Regions from separate parts of the Homo sapiens genome. Here region 1 is linked to region 2. Evidence: fine-mapped expression QTL. A gene starts in region 2. The other region holds a variant in brackets. All regions are shown on one strand. Distances are from middle to middle.

Region 1 (12,121 bases), 85 kb before region 2:
AAAAACTGTACATCTCATCACAGGATCCATACTACTGGACTAACTATTGAAAAGTGACGTCATGTCATATCCTTCTTCCTCGAACCACTAAAAGGTTTGTGATTGTTCACCTGAATCCGTTCTGGAACAAAGGTCCCCCTGAGTTGAAAAGGCCTTTTTGTGATGCTGTTTCCTTTTTGAGTGCTACTGAAAACACTGAAACATTCAATAATAAAAATAACATCAACTGAGCACTTCTGTATCAGGTGCTGTGCAGACACTTCTCATTTAATTTTCACAACAGCCCTATGGGGCAGCACTCCTATTATTACCACTCCAGCTAATGTGGACACAGGTTCCCAGAGGTTAGGTTAGGTAATTTGCCCAAGGTCCCAGCAAATATGAGTCAGGAAAGAACACTGGTGCTTTGACTCCTGAGTCCACACGCTTAATCACGTTGGAGTATTGCCAAATACTCCAAAATCTTAAATTCTTTTTTTTTCTTTTTTTTTTTTTTTGACACAGAGTGTTGCTCTGTCACCAGGCTGGAGTGCAGTGGCGCGATCTCGGCTCACTGCTACCGCCGCCTCCCGCGTTCAAGCGATTCCCCTGCCTCAGCCTCCCAAGTACCTGGGACTACAGGCACATGCCACCACACCCTGCTAATTTTTTTGTATTTTAGTAGAGACGGGTTTTCACCATGTTGGCCAGGATGGTCTCGATCTCCTGACTTCCCAAAGTGTTGGGATTACAGGCGTGAGCCACTGCACCCAGTCAATCTTAAATTCTTAAAGGTAGAAGGACCCTTCTGAATATGTAGCAAAGAAATGACAAAAACTGGTGCATCAGTGCCTCCATCAGTGAGAGGAAAGGACTTTCTGCTGGAACAAGCTGAGCTAACATCACAGTGACCTGAAGACAACAGGGTTTGTTTCTCTCACCACAGTTCTGAGGCCAGCAGTCCAGGTGGGCCTGTGCAGGTGCCCAGATACAGGGCCCCTCCTGGGTCATTGCCCTTCATTCCCAGTTTGAGATACTTTGTTACAGCAACCTTGGGAGACCCTAAAGGACTTAATGGTCACTTTAAAACACATCCAGAATTTCTTGACATGGTTTCCAATGAAAGAGGGAGCCAAGTTCCTCTCCCCTTAAACGCATGACTTGCATCTGAGAATGCAGTGAGAGTGATGCCACCTGCTCTCTGAGGCCAGGTCGTAAAGGAGACATCCTGGCTCTCTCAGGATCTTGCCTAAGATCCAGTCGCCATGTTCTGAGGAAGCCCAGGCTACATGTTCTGGCCAATGGCTCAGCTCAAGTCCCAGGTGAAAGCCAGCTTCGACCACCAGACATGAACGTAGAGAAGCCTGGAAATGACTTGGCCATGGTAATGGCTGCGCAGGAGGGATTCTAAGAGGGAGCTGCCCAGCCAAGCCCAGAGTTGGCAGAGGTCCTGAGCAAATCACAGTTGTAGGCGTGGGGATGTCTGTCATGCAGCAGTGGAGAGCTGAAGCCCCCCTGGGGTTCTGGAAGGGAAGAGACTGTGGAAGGAAGACAGAAGTACCTGGTAGTCACAATGGGCGATGCAACTTCAAAATTAAAAATGACAATGAAAATAATAATTAATAATTAAATAAACCAAATAAGAATTGTGATTTAAAATAAATATTGTTTAATTAAAAATATTTTAAGTATTTGGTGGAATTTCCAGTGAGGCCACCTGGGCCTGGAGTTTTCTTTCTGGAAAGGTTTTTAACTCCAAATTCCACACTTTTCATCAATATGGAGTGATTCAGTTATCTATTTCCCCTTCAGTAAGATTTAGTCATTGTGTCCTTTAGGAAATTGTCCATTGTTTTAAGTTTGAAGTTTATGGACTAAATTTGTTCATCATATTTTGTTGGTGCCCTTTTAACATCTGTACAATCAGTAGTGATGTCATCTCTGTCCTTCTGGATGTGATCATTGGTAGGTTTTTTTCATGGTCAATCTGGCTAAAGGTTTATCAATTTTACTTCTCTCTTCAAAGAATCAGCTTCTAGCTGGGCATGATGGTTTGTACCTGTAGTCCCAGATATAGAGGAGGCTGAGGCAGGATGATGGCTTGAGCCCAGGAGTTCAAATTCAGCCTGGGAAACAGAGCAAGACCCCATCTCAAATAAATCGATTGATTGTCCCTATGATCATCTCCCTATTTCATTTATTTATCCTATGATCTTTACTCTTTCCTTTCTTCTGCATATTTGGGGTCTTTTTGTTCTCTCTCTCTCTTTTTTTTTTTTTTTTTTTTTTTTTTGAGACAGTCTTGCTCTGTCGCCAGGCTGGAGTGCAGTGGCATGATCTCGGCTCACTGCAATCTCTGCCTCCCGGGTTCAAGCGATTCTCCCTCCCAAGTAGCTAGGACTACAGGTGCCCACCACCATGCCTGGCTAATTTTTGTATTTTTAGTAGAGATGGGGTTTCACTATGTTGGCCAGGATGGTCTCGATCTCTTGACCTTGTGATCCACCCGCCTTGGCCTCCCAAAGTGCTGGGATTACAGGCATGAGCCACTGCGCCCGGCCTATTTTTTCTTTTTTTAATGTGAAAGCTGAGATCATCAATTTAGAGCCTTTGTTTTCTGATATATGTGTTCAGTGATACAATTTCTCTGTAAGCACTGTTTTAGCAGCATGCTCCAAATTTTGATATTTCTTTTCATTCAGTCCAAAACGATTCCTAATTTCCCTTTTGATTCCTTCTTCAGCCCATGAGGCATATAGAAGTGTTCATTTCCAAAATTTAGAAATTTTGTCTATAGCCATATCACCCTGAATGTGCTGCATCTCACCCAAAATATTTAGAGACTTCCCAGAGATCTCTTGTTATTGTTTTCTAATTTAATCCCATTGTGGCTAAAGAACATTTTATGGTTTGAATCCCTTTAAATGTATTGACGCTTGTTGTATCGTCAGAACTATGGTCTGTCTTGGTAAATTTTCCATATGAACTTGAAAAGAATGTGTTTGCCGGGCATGATGGCTCACGCCTATAATCCCAGCACTTTGAAAGGCCGAGGCAGTTGGATCACAAGGTCAGGAGTTCGAGACCAGCCTGGCCAACATAGTGAAACCCTGTCTCTACTAAAAATACAAAAAATTAGCCGTGCATGGTGGTAGGCACCTGTAATCCCAGCTACTCGGGAAGCTGAGGCAGGAGAATCTCTTGAACCCAGGAGGCGGAGGTTGCGGTGAGCATAGATCTCGCCATTGCACTCCAACCCGGGCGGCGACAGTGCGAAACTCTGACTCAAAAGAAAAGAAAAAAAGAAAAAGAAAAAAAAAGTGTTCTGCTGTCGTTGGGTGGATGTTCTGTCAATTAAAGGAAATTGGTTGATAGTATTGTTCAAATCTCCTGTATCTTCACTGAACTTCTGCCTAATTATCCTATCAATCATTTGAAAGAGGTTATTGAACTCTTCAAATCCAATTGTGGATTTGCTTATGTCTCCATGAAGTTCTTCGGGTTTTTGCTTCTTATATTTTGAAGCTCTATTATTATACACAAAAATGTTTAGGATTGTTGTGTCTCCTTGGTGATTGACCCCTTCTTCACTGTGAAATTTTTCCTGGCCACATGCCTTGCTCTAAAAGCCATGTTTTTGTTAACAGAGCCACTCCAGCATTGTTTTGATTAGTGTAAACACAGTATATCTTTCCTTGTCTTTTACATTTAAAACATTTATGTTTATATATTTAAAGTATGTTTCTTTTAGGCAGAAAATAGACATGTGTCTTGTTTTTTTTAATCCAATCTGACAATCTGCCTTTTCTTTTCTTTTTTTTCTTTTATTTTAGATTCAAGGGTACATGTACAAGTTTGTTACCTGGGTATATTTCATGATGCTGAGGTTTGGGGTATGAATGACACCATCACCAAGACACTGAACATAGTACCCAATAGTTAGTTTTTCAACCCTTGCCCCTGTCCCACCCTCTAATAGTCCCCATTGCCTATTTTTCCCATCTTTATGTCCACAGGTACCCAATATTTAGCTTCCACTTCTAAGTGAGAACATGCAATCTTTGGTTTTCTGTTTCTGTATTAATTTGCTTAGGATAACGGCCTCCAGCTGCATCCATGTTTCTGCAAAGGACATTATTTTGTTCTGTTTCACGGCTGCATAGTATTCCATGGTATATACGTACCACATTTTATTTATCCAGTCCACCATTGACGAGCACCTGTGTTGATTCCATGTCTTTGCTATTGTGAATAGTGCCGAGATGAACATGCAAACACATGTGTCTTTTTAGTAGAATGATTTATTTTCTTTGGGATATATATCCAGTAATGGGATTGCTGGGCCAAACGGTAGCTCTGTTTTCTTTGAGGAGAAATCTCCAAACTTCTTTTCACAGTGACTGAACTACTTTACATTCCTACCAACGTGTATGAGAATGCCCTTTACTCTGCAGCCTCCACAGCATCTGTGATTTTTTGACTTTTTAACAATAGCCATTCTGACTAGTACGAGATGTTATCTGATTGTGGTTTTGATTTGCATTTCTCTAATGATTAGTGATGTGGCTGGGCCACTTATCTGTCTTCTTTTGAGAAGTGTCTGTTAATGTCTTTGCCCATTTTCAAATAAGGTTATTTGGGTTTTGCTTGTTGAACTAAGTTCCTTATAGATATTAGACCTTGGTTGGATGCATAGTTTGGCAATTTTTTCTCCCATTCCATAGTTGTCTGTTTATTCTGTTGATAATTTCTTTTTCTTTTTCTTTTTCTTTTTTTTTGTTTGTTTGTTTGAGATGGAGTCTTGCACTGTTGCCCAGCTGGAGTGCAGTGGTGCAATCTTGGCTCACTGCAGCCTCCGCCTCCCAGGTTCAAGCAATTCTTCTGCTTCAGCCTCTCGAGTAGCTGGGATTACAGGCACCTGCCACCACGCCTAGTTAATTTTTTTTTTTTTTTGGATTTTTAGTAGAGACGGGGTTTCACTATGTTGGCCAGGCTGGTCTTGAACTCCTGACCTCACTGTCCACCCGCCTCAGCCTCCCACAGTGCTGGGATTACAGGCATAAGCCACCACAACTGGCAGATAATTTCTTTTGCTGTGCAGAAGCTCTTTAGTTTGATTAGGTCCCTCTTGTCAGTTTTTGGTTTTGTTGCAATTGCTTTTGGGGACTTAGCCATAAATTCTTTGTCAGACAGTATTTCCTAGGTTGAGAAGGGTATTGTCCAGGTTTTCTTCTAGGATTTTTATAGTTTGAGGTCTTACATCTAAATCTTTAATCCCTCTTTAATCCCTCTTTAATCTTAATCTAAATCCCTCTTTAATCTTAATTTTTGTATATGGTGAAAGTTAGCTTTGTATACTTTATATAGGGGTCCAGTCTTATTCTTCTGCATATTTTATATAGGAGTCCAGTTTCTTTCTTTATATGTGGGTCCAGTTTCATTCTCTGCATTCTTCCAGTACCATGCTGTGTTGGTTACTGTAGCCTTGTAGTATAGTTTGAAGTTGGGTAATATGATGCCTCTGGCTTTGTTCTTTTTGCTTTGGATTGCTGTAGGTATTCGGGCTCTTTTTTGATTCCTTGTGAATTTTAGAAGAGTTTTTTCTAGTTCTATGAAAAATGATGTTGGTTTGATAGGAATAGCATTGAATCTGTAGATTGCTTTGGGCAGTGTAGCCATTTAAATGATATTGATTCTTCCAATCCACGAGCATGAGCATGGAATGTTTTTCCATTTGTTTTTGTCATCTGTTGTTTCTTTCTGCAATGTTTTGTAGTTCTCCTTGTAGAGATCTTTCACCTCCTTGGTTAGATATATTCTTGAGTATTTTTTGTTTGTGTGCCTATTGTAGATAGAATTGCATTCTTGATTTTGCTCTCAGCTTGAATGTTACTGGTTTATAGTAATGCTATTGATTTTTGTACATTAATTTTGTGTCCTGAAACTTTGCGTAAGTCATTTATCAGCTTTAGCAGCCTTTTGGTGGAGTCTAGGGTTTTCTAGGTGTAGAATTATATAACCCATGAAGAGAGATAGTTTGGCTTCTTCTTTTCCTATTTGGATGCCTTTTATTTCTTTCTCTTGCCTGATTGCTCTTGCTAGTGTTTCTAGTACTATGATAAATAGAATCTGCCTTTTCATTGGCTTGTTTAGACCACATACATTTAATGGGGTTATTGCTATGATTAGGTTTAAATTTATTGTGTACTATTTGTTTTCTATTTGCCCCAAGTTCTTTATTTCCATTTTCACTTTTTGCTGCCTTCTTCTGGATTAATTAGTTGGATTCCCTTCTTTTTCAGCTTTGTTGTTGTTGTGTTGTCGTGTTGTTGTTGTTGTTATTGTTTTAGTGATTGCCATAGGGTTTATAGTATCTGTCTTCAAACTGTTAGTCTTTCTTCAAGTGATATTATACCACTGCATGTATTCTGTAAGAGCCATAAGATAGTATACTTCCATTTCTCTCATCCAGGGCTTTATGCTATATTTGTCACACATTTTACTCATACATACATTATAAATCCTACACTGCCCTATCATTTTTGTTTATACAATTACTTTTAAGGAAATTTAAATCATAGGAAAAAGGTCTTAGAGTTGCTATAAAGTTACCTTAGCTCTTCAGTTCTTAGATCCAGTTTCCCATCTGGGGTCATTTTCCTTCTGCCTCAAAGACTTCTTTTAACATTTTTGGCAGTGTCATTCTGCTGGTCAGAACTGTCTTGCTTTTGTATGTCTGATAACGTGTGTATTTCACCTTCAGTTTTGAAGGATGTTTTCTCTGGGCATGGAATTCTAGGTTGAAGGTTTGGGTTTTGCTCTGCGCTTTAAAGGGGCAGCTCCACCATGTTCTCTCGTGTCCTTCCCAGTGAGAAATCTGCTCTTGTTCTGCATCTGTTCCTTTGTGCTGCTTCTCTGGTTGCTTTTAAGATTAGATTATGATGTGCCTTGATTCATTTTCCTCATTTTTCTTGTGTTTGGGTTTTATTGAACTTTATGGAGTGGTAGATTTATACTCTTCATCAAATTTGGATATTTTTCAGTCATAATCTCTTTAGATAGTCTGTCTGTCTACATGGATGTCTTTAGATAGTCTGTCCATCTACTATAGTCATGTCCATATACATGGCAATCATGTATAGTTGTCCCATAGTCCAGTGATGCTTTTTAGTTTCTTACCCAAATTTTAGTCTTTTTTCTTT[C/T]TTCCTCTAGCTTTTTGAACATAAGAAATACAATTATAATAACCATCCTAATGCTCTTATCTGCTGATTCCAACATCAGCATCAATTTTGGGTCAGATTCAGTTGATTGATTATTCTCTTCATTTGGGGTTAAGTTTCACAGGCCTGGTGATTTTCTATTCAATGTCAATAATTTCCGGCTGGGCGCAATGGCTCACGCCTCTAATTCGAGCACTTTGGGAGGCTGAGGCAGGTGGATCACAAGGTCAGGAGTTCAAGACCAGCCTGGCCAAAATGGTGAAACCCCATCTCTACTAAAAATACAAAAATTAGCCTGGTGTGGTGGCTGGCACCTGTAATCCCAGCTACTCAGGAGGCTGAGGCAGAGAATTGCTTGAACCCGGGAGGCAGAGGTTGCAGTGAGCCAAGATCACACCACTGCACTCCAGCCTGGGTGACAAAGCAAGACTCCATCTTGAAAAAAAAGAAATCCATTTTACCTCATTGGATACTAGATTATTTCTGTATTCCTACAAATACTTTTTTAACTTTGCTCTAGGAGGCAATTAAGATTCTTAGAAACAGTTCAATGCTTTCAGGTCTTGTTTTAAGATTTGTTATTTGAATCCAGAGCAGATTGAAGTCTAGGGCTAACAATCCCCCACCACTGGGGCAAGGTCCTTCTGCGTACTATCCCCGGTGCCCCATAGATTCTGTCTTTTTTCAGCCTGCCTGGTGGGAGCAGGCACTATTCCCAGCCCTGTGTGAGTTCCCAGTACTGCTCCCTCTAATCCTTTGTGTGGGTTTCTCCCCAGCCCTGGGTAGCTTCCACGTACACATTCATTGATCCACACTCTACTAAATACTAAAGGGGGTCCTCCGAAGATCTCTGGGCTTCTATCTCTGCACAGCTCTCTCTGCAGTGGTGCCCTGCCCTGGGAAGACCAGCTGCCTTGGACTTCCCCGATGCCCAGCTCCCCTTTCTCAGCCCCAGCAGTGTGCCAGGTTCCAACACGAGCCTCCCTTTATGCCGGAGCCTGGAAACTCTATTCAGGCAGCCCGTTGGGAAACTGCGGGACTATTCTCATTTGTTTCTTGGCTCTCTCAGGGATCACTGTCCTTCCCTGTCTCCTGTCCAACATCATGAAAACTATTATTTCATATATAGTTGTCTGGTTTTTTAGTTATTTCAAGTGGAAGGGTAAATGTCATCTGTTGCCCCCTCTTGGCAAAAAGCAAGAGTTTTGGACAAGTGCTTACTTTTAATCATCCTTTTCTAGCACATATATTTCAAAAGCACAAATGAAGTGCCTCCTTCATCTTTGTACCTCCAGAGAGTCTAATTCAATGCCTTGTACATAGGATGTGATCAGCAAGTGCTGCTGATTGATTAATTGAGAAGAAATGGTGTTTCTTTGTTGCAGGCAGGGGAAATGATGAAGATGAACCATTTTCCAGCTTTTCCAGAAGTAGATCATTAAAATATGGTTTCTGACTCCAAAACAGCACACAATTTTGTTTTACAACTTTTTTATTTAGCTATGAATGCATATAAACATTTTTTAAAAGGCAAAATCCAAAAGTCTGGCCACTTTTTGGATTATGCTATAGGACTAGATGGATCAAATTACTAAAATTGCTATAATCTACTTCAACCTAGGAATTTGTTTCTAAGGAAATGGGATGTTGTATTTATAAGTACATTTGTATGTTTATTTGGCAAACATTGGGCATCCTCTGGGGCCTTGGGGCCTGGTGCAGCAGCTCAGCAGGGAGCTCCAGCACTGCAGCCTGGACAGCCCTTCATTGGTGGGTGGGCTGACTGTGTAGGGCCCGTCAGACACCTAGCCCCGAGTGAGACGCGCCATGGAGAAAAGGAGCCGTAGAACAACAGTCATGACAAGTGCAAAGAAGGAAAAATACAAATGACTAGGGGGAGCTTAGGCAGAGTCAGGGAAGGCTTCCAGCCAACACCCAATGCACCAATATCCAATGCACGTAAACACAGAATCAAAGAGCGACCTTCATTCTCAGAAATCCTGCCACCTAAATTCAAAGGAAGAAAGTGTTTTCCTGGTGGCTGCAGTAACATAGAAGCCTCCTCTCTCACAAGGGAGTCAGAAAGTCACCTTCCCACCAAAAAAAGGAATGAAGCTCCATCCCAGGCGTCTCTTCCTCGATGATTAAAAAGACCAGGCTGGACCAGGAGACAGTCAGGTGCTTGGCCAAGGCTCCACTTCCCGTGGGTCCTGCCTTGTGGAGGGCAGCCTTCTTCTTCTTCAGTTGATTTTGGAAGTGGAGAGCGCAAGTGACGACTGCTCATTCCAGAGGTTTGGTTGTGAAAGAGAAGGCTGCAGCAGCAAACTCAGGGGAGGCAGGACTCTGGTGTGAGGTCGAGGACAGTAATGAGCATGAACTTGTCTCCAAGATGGGCGGAAGCAGCCAGCAGATGGCTACTCAAACACCATCAAGAGAGGAGGTAGCAGGATGGCTTGGGAAGGCCCAAGAGGTAGGCCTTGTTGGCAGCCAGGGCACAGGGGAAGGCGTTGCCTCCAAGTGGGGCAGAAGCATGTCTTCTGCTGCACCAGGAGGATCGGATGGTATGGATACGCAGAGTCGCCCAGTGCACCATAGACGAGGGCTTTGATGCTTGCTCTCTGAAAAGGAAATGTCACCTCTGTGACCCGAAGCAGACGTGGCCAGCACTGCTGGGCTCTACTGCTAGAGGCTGGGGGTCCGGAAGTTCCCGTTGCATCAGTCATTGTGGTTGTGGGTTCTTCTTTAGCCCAACAGCAGTCTCTGCCCGTGTTCACATACAGGAGGCAGATAGTCACGTGGATAGATTTTGGGTGGGGTTTCCCATAAGAGGGGCAACTAGTGAAGGAGTAGAGGATCTGTACATGGCAGTTGATCAGGTGGAAGCTGGATAAGGGTGAACCGGAACACAAGAGGGAAGTTGCTAGCAGGTCAGGGGCCAAGAGATTGGAAACGCCTACAAAGACAAACTCACACACATAGACACAGTCACCTCTATGCCCAGGTCCTCCCATACACATACACACACTGTCACACACACACACCTGCCAATGCACATTTATACATACACACATCCATGCATACATATGTCCATGCACACATGTCCACATGTGCCCATGCACACACACATATCCACACACATCTGCTCACATACATGCACACACACAGCTGCCATCAACAGCCCTGGCAGAATGAGGTGGAAGAGTGAAACGTTTAAATTTAAAAATTTGTTTTGAAGGCAGTGCCTGGGTTCATCCTAACCCAGGAATATCCTTCTTTCCAAAATATTGCTCATTGTGAATGCAGAACAGCAGTTTAGAACATCTCCCCTCCCAGGCACTTGCATTCTGAGCCAAGGCGTCCATGGCACAGCAGACAACAGGGTGATCTTGGCTCACTGCAACCTCCGCCTCCCAGGTTCAAGCGATTCTCCTGCCTCAGCTTCCCGAGTAGCTAGGATTATAGGCATGCACCAACATGCCGGGCTAATTTTGTATTTGATTGCTATGACATGTTGAATGTGCTGTTCCTCAATAGTAATTCATAGTTCCCCATGGTTTGTGTGTGTTTGCTTCCCCTTCCGCCATGATTATAAGTTTCCTGAGGCTTCCCCAGCCATGCTGAACTGTGAGTCAATTCAATCTCTTTCCTTTATAAATTACCCAGTCTTGGGTATGTCCTTATTAGCAGAATGAGAATGGACTAACCCTCCACCTTCAAAGCCAGCAACAGCAGATCGAGTCCTTCTCACATCCATCAGGCTGATGTCCTCTCTGCCAACCCCTCCCACTTACAAGGATCTTCATGGTTACATTGGGTCCCACATGGATATTCCAGAATAATCTCTTAAAATCAGTTAATTAACAACTACAAGTCTATCTGAAACCTTAATTCCCCTTTGCCCTGTCATGTAACATGTTCTCAGGATCTGGGGATTCAGATGTAGACATCACTGGGGCATTATTCTGCCAACCACAGAGGTCCTTGTGAGAAAAATAAAATCATATGATTGGAAAGGAAGAAATAAAACTGGATTTATTCACAGATATAATAATCTACATGGAAAAATCTAAGGAATGTACAAAAAGCCACTAGAACTAACAAGTGAATTTGGCAAGATTGTAGGATACAAGTTCAATTTTTAAAAATTTGTTGGATTTCTATATACTAGAAGTACACTGAAAGGTGGAAATGTTCAAAACACAATAAAATATTGGAAATTAGCAACATTTACATGACATTGTAACATTTACAGTGACATCAAAGAATATGAAATACTTAGGAATAAATTAAACAAAAGATGCACAAACTACAAAACAATCCTGAGGAAAATTAAAGAAGGTCTAAATAAATGGAGAGGTATACCATGTTCATGAGTCAATATTGCTATGATGTCAATTCTCCCCAAACTGATTTAGAGATTTGGTGAAATCTCAAGTAAAATCTCAGGAGGTTTCTTCTTTTTTGCAGAAATTGAGAAGCTAATTATAATATTTACATGGAATGCAAAGGATCTAAAACAATTTTGTTTGCTTGTGGCCAACACAATTTTGAAAAAGGAGAATGAGGTTTTTTAGACTAACTGCTCATTTCAAGATTTATTATAAATCAACAGTTATCAAGACATTGTGGCATTAGTCTAACTGAAAAAAAACATGTAGGTCAATGGAATGGAATAGTGAGTTCAGAAATAGATCCACTCATGTAGAATCAATTAAATTTTGACAAAGTTGCCAAGGCAATTCAATGAAGAAATGATAATTTTTTCAACAACTGGTACTGAAACAACTGGATGCAAATTTGTCCCATGCAAAAACAAAACAATGAAATGCAACCCCTACATCACACTGTAGAAGAAGACTAATTTGAAATGGGTCATAGATCTTAATGTGAAAGCTAAACTATGAAACTTCTAGAAGAAAACA
Region 2 (10,804 bases):
CAGCCTCCCACTGTGCCTTCTCTAATTCAGAACCTACCTAAGAGTAACTGCTATTCTGACATTGATCCCTTTGTTATGTTTGCTGTTGTAGAACTTCTTATGGACAGAATTATACGGTAGCGGCTCTTTTGTGTATGTCTGACTTCTTTCAGAATTATGTCTAAGAGACTCACCTTTTTGCTACGTGGAGTTCTTTCCCTTTTTCATTACTTTGTAGTATTCCATAGGGTGACTTTACCACCAGTTATTTGTCTTTCTACTACTGATAGACACTCGGGTTGTTTCTAGTTTGGAGTCACAACAAATGAAGTTATCATGAGCATTCTTATATATGTGTTTTGGTAAACATATGCACTTATTTTTGTGCATTCTATCCAGAAGAGGAATTGCTGGGTTATAGAGCATTTGAGTATTTAGCTTCAGTAGTATTGCTCTGTATGTTCCAAAGTGGCCATACTATTTTACACTCCCAGCGAAGATGTATGAGAATTCTAGCTGCTCCACATCCTTGCCAACACTTGCTATTTTCAATTTTAGACATTCTAGTAGGTGAGCAATTTTCCACTTAAATGTATAGTAGCACTAATGACACTACAGTGAGCATGGCACTCACCTAGTTGTCCATGAATATCTGTTTTTCCTTTCCTTAATATATTAATTACAGACTTTTAGCTGGTTACATAGTCACTCAACTAGCAGCTACATTTCCAACTCCCCCTTGCAGCTACATGTGGGCCCAGGACTAAGTTCTGGTCAATGGTATGTGACAGAAGTGATGTGTGCTACTTCCTGGTATTGCACTGAAATCTATTGATCACACTCGTCCTGGCCTATGAAATCTATTGATCATACTCTTCCTCTTTCCAGCTAGATGGACGGTAACATCCAAATGGGAGACAGCAAAGCTCCCCACCAGTCCTGGTCCACATGTCTACCTCTGATAATGTTATATAAGAAATGAATAAACTTCTGTCTCAGTCAAACCACTGGATTTTTATCATAGCAGGGAATCGTGCATCCAAATAAACACTCTGTGATTGCTCATTTGCCCTCTGACTTGAACACACCTGGGCACATGTTGTTTCTATTTGCTTAGCACTCATCTGTGCATTAGGGAACTGCTCTCCCACAGCCCTGCAGTTCTGTGAGATTGTGAACTGTACCTGCTGCAAGCATATGCATGTGGCCCAGGTCTGACCGGTTGTGGTTTCTCATCCTTCTCTGGAATTTTGGGTAAATGGGATTGGCATGAGAGCCAACAGAGCCAATCAAAGTTCTTCCATGAGATTTGCAATATAAAGAGAAAGAGTCTTTGTCATCATTTTAGAGTTTGGTGGCCAGGAGCCTTGTGACAGGAGAGGATAAAACCAACACCCAAACAGAGCTAGGGCCAATCAGAGAGAAAGAGGGAAAGAGTCAGAGAGCCGAGAGAAGAGGGATATTTAATAATGGCATCCAAGTCCCTGGATCTAACTGTACCTGGAGCACCTTTAGACGCAAGTGAGCCAATAGTATGAGCTGAATTTCTGTCATTTACCACCAAGAGTCCTGTCTCCTTCATTAATGCTATAAACATGTTTGATGGCAACTTTATAAAGCACTATGCAAGATGCTGGAGATACAAGGTCCCTTTCCTTTAAAATAGTAATTCTTAGTCTGATCAACTTTGAAGGGTCCATCCAGATGGAAGGATGATAAGAAAAGAATTACATTTTTTTCCCCACTAACCTCTAACTGAAAGGAAGCATTTCCTTCGGGTGTACATGCAGGCAACAAACACAGCCACATCAGCAGTATGTAAGGACTTCTCAGCAGAAATCACAGCGATTCTCACATCACATCATGCTCGTTACAGACTTTAAAATATCGGCTGACTTATCATGACTTGGAAACTACAGCTATCAGATCTGCCGCCAGAGCATATTATTAAAAAAGAAGCAAGTAGATCACATTTTAAAGTATTTTGGTAGCTGGATTTCAGTATAATTCATTTCCTTTTGAATCCTGTATTTGACTTTATGCATTTAAACACATTACTCTGAAAAGAGTTCTGTAGACCTCACCACTCTGTGAAGTTCAAAATGTAGACCAGAGAAGAAAGAAAACTATCAACAAACAATTATAATGGAAGCTGGTGCAGGCACCAAGGAAGTGACGTGTAAGGTGACATTCGAGCTGAGGAGCAGGGTGGGGGATATTAGCTCTGCCCAGGGTGCATGGGTTTGTGTTGGAGGAAATGATGCCAGGGCAGAGCCTTGACACATAAGTGGGTGTCTGCCAGCCAGCCAGGGATGCGAAGAGGTCCATGGTCTGGCAGTTGGTGACAGCAGTCACCTTAAAGGTCAGAAAGGCATTGCTGGGGCAAGTTCACTTGCTGGGGCAAGTCTAATCCAGCAGACACCAGCACTGATTAGATCAATGGTCAGATGGGGCCACATCAGCATCCTGTACACTCCCCAGTATGACGAAGGATGGCTTGGTAAACCATTCTGCATGTTCAGTGATGTGGGAAGTGCTGCCATGAGTGTGTGCACCAAAAATGGATTACACCCCTTCACCAGATTTATCTAGCACTTAGTGGTTTGACAGTTGAACGCTGTGCAGGAGCACAGAGCAATGATAACATCTCAGCACGGCCTTCATTTCTATGCTTCTGCTGGTGTGACCCCACGTTTCCAAGTGTGGCTTTAACAAAAAGAGCTCTGTGGGTCCTGTGGGGGTCTCAGTGGCAGTAAGGACATATGAGGGTGCTAGAGGTGCCTGGGGATCTCAGAGCCTTCAAAATCCCTTTCGGCTTCCTTCATTGACATGTTCTAACAATCAGGGTGCCTGACAGAGACCGGTGTGGACTCTCTATTTTGGAGAGGCTGGCCAGGAAGGCCACACTCTTACCAGCCTTTTCTGGGGTGCGGGGAGGAACAGAGCTAGGAGTAGGAGTCACAGCATGGTCTTGGCAGCCACTGCATGGTAACAGTGGAGGTGTGGCTCACCCACGTCTCTGCAGAGTGTGGTCACATTCAAAGGACATCTCCCCGGACTTTTCTAGAAGCTGCTGGCAGGTCCCAGAGCCAACCTTCCCACAGTCCCTCAGAGGACCCCGTTTCTCCACTTGCTGTGCTGACTCTCTCTCTAAGCTTAGCCTGGACACTCTGCATGCCACTACAGGTGAGAGGCGGCAGGCCGACTCTTTCTGAAGACACCTCCTCCACTGCGTAAGGCTCCACACTGGGCGATCTGGAAACGGCTCCCAGCCCACTACGTGCCTGTTCCCTCCTGCACTGCAAAGTGGAAGCAGAGGATCCTCTCTCCTCATATCCACCTGGGCCGTGTTGGAAGCTGAGTATTATTTGTGCTGCCATACTTGAGTTTTTTTCTCATATGGGACTTAACTATTATCAATCCAGTTACTATGCTCATATGCATATAGATGGTGTCAACATTCTGGCTGGGAAATGCAGAGAAACTTTGCAAAGCATGGTCTCAGTATCCAAACACTTGGCATTTCTGGGGAAACTAGGAAATAGATTGGTTAATATGATCTTTGATATGCTTGAACTTAATATTGGAGGGGAAAGTAAGGGGGTGAGAGGTAAGGCAAGATTGGAGTTCATTTAGCTACTTTTATTTTTATTTTTTGAGACTGAGTTTTGCTCTGTCGCCCAAGCTGGAGTGCAGTGGTATATGATCTTGGCTCACTGCAACCTCCGCCTCCCGGGTTCAAGTGATTCTCCTGCCTCAGCCTCCTGAGTAGCTGGGATTACAGGTTTGTGCCACCATGCCCACCTAATTTTTGTATTTTTAGTAGAGACGGGGTTTCACCATGTTGGCAAGGCTGGTCTCGAACTCCTGACCTCAGGTGATCCGCCTGCCTCAGCCTCCCAAAGTGTTGGGATTACAGGCGTGAGCCACTGCACCCAGCCTGCTACTTTTATATCTATGTTTGAAATGTCCCACGACAGAGTGTGAAACAAGAATAAAAAGGCAAGCTTGGTCACTTTGGGAGACATAGGCAATCATGCTGAGAGAAGGGAACAGGGAAGAAGGTCAGAGAGGAGGGAAGAGGAAGACCTAATAATGGCATCCAAGTCCCGGTTCTAATGGTACTTGGGGCATCTTTGGATGCAAGTGAGCCAATAGTATGGGCTGAAGTTCTATCACTTACAACTAAGAGTCCTGTCTCCTTCATGAATGCAATAAACATGTTTGGGGGCAATTTTATATAAGCACGGTGCAAAGAAGCCCTTGTGTTCGCAGCCTGGGCATTGCGGAAAGCTTTTTGGAGTTTTTACTGAATTCTCTCATGTTCTTCTGTATGCATTAGGAAACAGGCTAGAGAGGACAGTATTCTGGAAGGTCATGATGCCAGAAGTGTGGGCCCCAGGACAGCCATGCAAAGTCTCTTCTTTGCCCTGGGCTGCCCTCTATTAGATTCTGAGCATGTGGGTCTAAAAGCCAGGAGAGAATTCAGCAGTTGTTGAGAAGCATACCCCTCTGCTGCTGGTCCCCTCCCTGCAGTGTGTTCCCAAGGTGGCCCCAGGCCTGTCTAGACGCTGGCTGTGAAGGGCACGCTCCTGTAGGGGCAGCCGGCTCTTCCACAGTGAGGTCTGTCAGAAAGCGCCCACGATAGGCAGGAATCCACTTTCTCATCTAATTTCCACCCATCTGTCCTCATTCTGCCCTTCATAACACCACAGAGTAATCCTTCTTCCCGGGACAGTTTTGCACATATTGGGGTTCTTCTGTCTTGTGCTCCACACATTGATTTTCTAGGCTGAAGACTCCCGGTGGGTCAACTCCCCTCCCACGGGATACTGCTGGCTGCCTTAGACACCAAGCAAGGGCATGGTATTCTAGATGTGTCTGACTAGTGAGGAATAAAAGAGAGTCCCCCCACCCCACCCCAATCAGTGCAATGCTTGCATGTGTAGATCCTAAGCGTGCATCCCTCCTTGGGTATAGAATGCTGTTAAACCAGTTCTGTCCTAATCCGTTCCCATTATGTTTCAATCCAAATGGGATGTGGAACATGGATTCATGGACCCCTACAATTGGAAAAGAGCTTGGAAAAGACTTCTCTAGTTTTTCCTGTAATAGTCACCAGCACTGAACCCGAGCACACGGTGCAGTGGGCTTTACCTGCCATTCTCTCTCCGTGCTCCCCAAACCCTCCAGGACGACCACACTGTCCTCATGTTGCAGGGTACAGAGGTTTGCTGAGGCCTGAGGTTATTTGGAAACTGCAGAGCTGTGAGTCAAGGGAGTCTATCAGATTCCAGGTCTGGATTCTTCAGCAAGAGGGTGGTGGCTGCCATGCCGTAGAGGGAGGAGGGGGTGCGTGCTCCACCCCACCCTGCTTGACACCAGCTTTGCCATCTTAGCCTTTGCTGGGCCGAAGCCCTATTCTCAGAGCTCCGGCACTGAACCACAGAAACCACAGGAGGCCCTAGAACGGAACTCTGAGACTGTTGGGCCTTTAACTCTGTGACTGTTGGGCCTGGGACTGGCTTCATTTGTAAACTCTGGCTCTCAGAGCCAGTGCTCAGCAGGAAAACAGCCTCAGGGCCCCTGCCCCTCAACAGCAGTCTGTAGTCCAGGGAGGTATCACCTGGCCTGGAGAGGGGCTCCCCAACTCCTCACATTTAGGGGAAATCTTAGCTGGTTCCGTAAGAAACTGTGTCCCCTTCTCAGGACTGTGTTCCTCAATAGGCCTCCCAGCCTGGCCAGTCACTGTGCGAGCCCTGTCACCTCTCCTGGGGGCAGAGGGAAGAGGTCTGGATGGAGCAGCACCATCTCTGAGGGCCCCCAGATCCCCAAACCCATGGGCTAGTCACAAACAAGTCTCACCAGCAGCCTCACAGGAGGACCATTTGCCATACAGAGTGGAAAATGATGAACGTTTGGCAAAAGGCTAGCACGGGGGTTCAGGGAAACCAAGACTCCAGGTGGTGCCAGCCCCTCCCCTGGGGAATGGGAGCAGCCTGGTGTGAAATATTCTTGCCCAAAGTCAGCAGCCAAGTGTTCTGGGTGCCACGTGCCTCACGCACACTGCAGGTCAGGTTCTCAGAAGAGCTGGCCCAGGGTCTGGGGGTGAAAAAAAACTGGGGGATTTGGGGGAGGCCTGGAAAGGGTGGGGTTCATCCAGGACCCCAGAAGGGGCAAGCTTGTCTATTGAGAGCTGGTGAGGAAGAGGGTGACAGGGCACCTCTTGGTCCTGGGAACGGGTGCTTGACTCAGCAGAGACCAACCCAGGGCTGAGGGACAACCCTCTGGGCCTGGCGGGGAGGCAAGAGAGATGGGAGGTGAGGAGGAAGGAGTGGGGAGCAAAAGTGGGGAGAAGGGGAGAGAGGTGGAAGAGTGTTGCGAAGGTGAAGAAAGAGGAGGAAAAAGAGAAGGGAGGAAAAGAAAGGTTGGGGGAGGGAAAGGAGGGAGGTGAGCAGGGGCGAGGAGGAGGGAGGAGGAAGGAGGAAGAAAGGGGCGGGGCCATAGGAGGGAAGAGAAGAAGGGGGAGAGGAAGGGGAAGGGAAAGGGGAGGAGGCGGGAAGGGAGGGGGAGCGGAGGAGGGGCCTGCGCGCCCGCCCCGCGCACTCCGTCCCCGCGCCGGCCTCAGCGCTCTCGCGCGCCGCAGCATCCCAGCCGCCGCTGCCGCCGCCGGGCCTCCCCGCCACCCCCTCCCCGGCCCGGCCGCCTCCCGCCGCTGCCGCCGCCGCCGCCGCCGCCATTCCTGGCGCCCGAACTCGCCCGGCCGGGAGCCGCCGCGGGCAGGACGCGCGCTGCAGGTAAGCGGCCGGGCTGGCGCGGGAGGGAGGGCGCGCGGGGCCGGGCAGGTGCGCTGGGGGCGGCCTGGACCCTCCGCGGAGCCCCCACTCCACACCCCTAGGCTCCTCACCGGACCCTCGGGGCCCTCCCCGAACCCCTGCAGGAGCCTCCTTCTGGGATCCCCGGACCCCTGGACTCCTTCCTGGATCCCCCCGGGGCCCCTCCTGGGACGCCTCCCAGAGACACCTACCCGGACCCCTCCGACCCCCTGGACCTCTCTGCTATCCCTCCCCGGCCTTCTCCCCTTCCCGGTTGCCTCCCCAGTCCCTGCGCGCAGGTGGCTCCTCTGGGCGCGGGGGAGCGGGGGCGCGCTGCATACCCGGGCCAGGGAGGGGGCGGTGCGCTCGGCCAGGCCCCGTCGCGCCCCGGCCCGCCCAGTCCGGCCCCGCCAGGTCAGGCCCCACTCCGGCCAGCCGGGCTCTGGCCGGGCCCCCGCGGGCTTCTATTTTGGTCGCGGAGGCCGCGGACCCTGTGCACTGGACCCGGCGCCGCGCACTCAGACAGGTGGGGCAGGTTGGGCCGCAGTGGTCAGGTCGCCGCCTTGGCAGTGAGTGCTGCAGGCCTCGGTTTCCTTTCGGGTTTTGGTTGCATTATTCTAGAACAGCCCAGGAGAACCACAAGCCTTAGCTTGGGCTGCACCTGTTGCAGCCGCCTAGTGAGCTGCAAGGGGCTGGCTCTACTGGGGTTATGCCAGTAAAAACGTGTAAAGGAGAGTTGAACTCGTGGTTGTCCTCTATTTTCTGGCTTAGTATTTTGGGGGGTAGGTGGGAGAGTGGGTGAATGGGAGTCTGTAAGTGGGCAGTTTGCGTCAAATGAGGCCTGGTGTCGAGGGCTGGGTCCTGCTTTCCGGAAGGTTTTCCACATGAAGTTGCTTTGCTTTTGTTTTGAAAACCTCACTCTGTGTTGAGCACATCCCAGGCTCGTGGGTGGCCAGGCCCCCGAAGGCCAAGCTGGACGTGGGGCCTGGGGCCAAGCATCTCACCCTGCTGTTCTGAGTCTTTTCAAATCCACCAGGCGCCACGGAACGGAAGTTTCCTTTCCTGGGGGTGACGTGACACCAGTGGCCTGTCACCTCATATGTGTCCTAGGCCTGGGGCCTGCCTGCTGGCTGCCCAGGCGAGGTTATTTGGGAATGTTTACTGTGTCCCAGAAACAGGCAGCTCTGGCCAGTGCAGGGGCAGGATTCTGGTAGAGATGATAATGCCCTGATTGTCATTTTGACAGTTGGTGTCTGCGTATATCATGTCTTGGTAGTCGTCAGCCAGAAGAAGAAAGCAGGCGGGCTCAGCATACCCACCAGGGAGGCTGGGGTGGGAAGATGAGGGATGCACTGGCCTGTTTCTGTGAGCAAAGACTGCCCTCCCATAAGGCCAGACCTTCAGACTGAGAAGAGTGTACGTGGTACACTCAGCGAGTCAAACAAAGAAATAGAAACACATCACTGGTGCCAGGAGCAGCCCTGGGGTCCCAGGAGGGTGGGCCGCTTAGGAGTTGGTAGACGGTGGAACTCAGTGGCTGTATTTCAGAGTGCAGACAGGCAAAAGGCCACCGTGGGGATGCAGAGCCCCAGCTGCCATGCCAGCCCAAGGTCTTGCAGCACAGCACAAGGGAGGGACTCCATGGGAGGGGGCCCACCTCCTGAGAAGCACACCCAGAGTCTGTTGAAAATGCAGCCTTGCACAGACCCCCCTGAGTGCCTGGGGTCCTGGGCTGAGGTTTAGAGTGCAAGACCAGCGACCATGTTGCATTTGATATCCAGTGGGTCTGGGGCCAGGGAGATGTCCTTGGTGACATCATCCACTTGTGGACAGTCCTCTCCATGTGGACCGCTGGAGGCAGATGTTACCTAGAGCCGCTTTCCCCACACCAAGCGGGTGTGTCTAGGCCAAAGCTTGGGAGTGCACGCTAATGGCCAGCTTTGACTGAGGAGGGAGGGAACGTCCGCTGCTGACAGCACAACAGCAAAATCAATAATGCATTGCAAAGATCAATGGTTTTCTCTATCTTCTGTGCTTCTGCATTGAGGCTGTTCAGGCTTCTGCCTCTCTTGGTTCCATTTCTGTTGGGGAGGGAGGGATGGGCGGGTCCAGGAGGGTGGTTGCAGATTCTCCTCCTGACCCCTGGAGCCAGAGCTCCAGGGTTGGAGCTAGGACCCATGGGGATGAAACTTGCCACGTGAAAATATAGAAATAAACGTGCCGTCGGCTGATTGTCGAGCCTAGTTGCTGAGAGAAAGGCTGCTGCCTGCTGTTCCCAACCAGGGCAGTTATTTCTTCTTTGAACTTGGACAATTCCAGGAAGAAGACTAGAAGGTGAGAAGGGAGGTGGCAGAGGCAGCTGGGGTGGGTCCTCTCTTCCCTGGGCCAGGGTCCGCCCTGGGCTTGGCAGGTGCAGTTCCTCAGCCCTGCCCATTGCATCCCCATCCCCATCACCATTGCCGTCCAGGGTCCAGGGCTGCTGGAGGAGATAGCTGCTGATTCAGTCAGGTGGAGAGGGTGTGCCAGGGCCTTCCCTGGAAGCTGGGTGGTGTTTTAGGTGCACTAGTTAAGGCGATCCTTGGGATAAGCAAATTGCTTTGCTGCTTGTGGGTCACTTTTCAGCTTCTGTGACCCTCCCTGAGCGAATTTGCCTTTAGCTGGGGGTGTCACAGCAGGGGCCCCAGCTTTCTACTGCCTTGCTGCTTCCCCTGGGGCATCAGCAGCCGCCTTCCCACAGCACCTGTGCAAACCTCAGTGGGGGGCAGGCAGGGTCCTGTTATTTGGTCCAGAAGTTTCAGATGCTGCCCATGAAAGCAATGACTGCATCCCTGCCCTGGATCACATCTAAGTGGCACCCCAAGATTTCTGGCTTCGATCAAAGCCTGATCCAGGCTGTCACTTGGATCAGCATTTGATCCAAGCATCACTCCTTTGAAAACTAGGCTATTGATGTGTCTCATGGACATTTGTGGAGTGAATGATGATTTTAAGGAATTCCTTAATCACAGCATCGTGGTTATGTTAGAATAACTTTCACCCTTTAGCAATAGATACTGAGTGTTGGTAGATGAAATGATGTTTGGGATCTGCCTCAGATTAGTGTGGGGTGGGGAAGCAGAGGGGATGAGAAGGGGCGAGATGGTCTGAGTGGACAGTTTGGGGTCTGGATGAGAGTACCTGGGTTCTTTGTTCTGTTCTGCCTACTTGCATGCACTTTGAAAATTCTCCATCATGAAAAGTTAATAATAATCGGAGATCTCCAATTCCTCCCTGTAAAACATGCCATTGGATTCTTTACTTCATGATGGCATCATTCAAAGGTTTACTTTAAAAGATATGCCAATCTATTAAGTAGAAATGTCACTCCTTAGTGTAGACTATAGAGAATGTGCCCTCTCCATGCACAAGTGCAGGCGCTCAGCACGGAAGCCCATCTGGAAGGACACACACCTGGTATTCAGCAGATCATTATGGAGCCGCCTATGTGGACCTGGTGCCAGGCGCTGCCCCAGGCTCTAGGGACTCAGCCCTGAGTGAAAGCAGCACTCCACAGTTAGCAAAGGGTGGGGCGTGTGTGAATGTGAGTGAGTGTGTGTTGGGGGAGGAGAGGGAAGAGGAAGAGGGAACCTATACTTTGTCTTCTTTTTGTACTTATGTATGGTTTGTTTCTGTTACAAGGAATTATTTTTGGAATATCAAAATGAATTTTCAAAAAGTGGTCTTCATTAGGTCATATACTTTCCTCTGGCGTTTTAAATAGAATTTGATTTGTGGAAGTTCATGTTTCTACACGTCTTAATAACAGATGAATTGGCTTCCATGAGGCAATCAATGAATCAATAGTTATTGATCCTCTGAATATGTGCTTTGTGGGCTATGAAGGATAGAAATCAATATGCTACTATCAGCATTAGGGGAGACAAGACAAAGACCCTGACAATTAAATAATAGTACAATCCAGCCACAGAAGGGTTATCCTTACACTCAGTACAGAAACAAAGGCCAAGTCT

Evidence for each region.
Region 1: its variant is fine-mapped to the expression of SEMA4D in tibial nerve (GTEx, PIP above 0.99).

Annotation. Positions count from the first base shown.
Region 1 is chr9:89,577,980-89,590,100 of GRCh38, reverse strand. No RefSeq gene overlaps it. Among named protein-coding and RNA genes, the nearest start is that of GADD45G, 21 kb to the left of the region's middle. The variant C/T (reference allele first, on the strand shown) is at 7,182.
Region 2 is chr9:89,493,891-89,504,694 of GRCh38, reverse strand. It overlaps SEMA4D (semaphorin 4D), which reads left to right and starts at 6,582. Exons shown (of 16, transcript NM_001371194.2): 1 at 6,582-6,776. RefSeq lists silencers at 6,493-6,682, 7,113-7,262.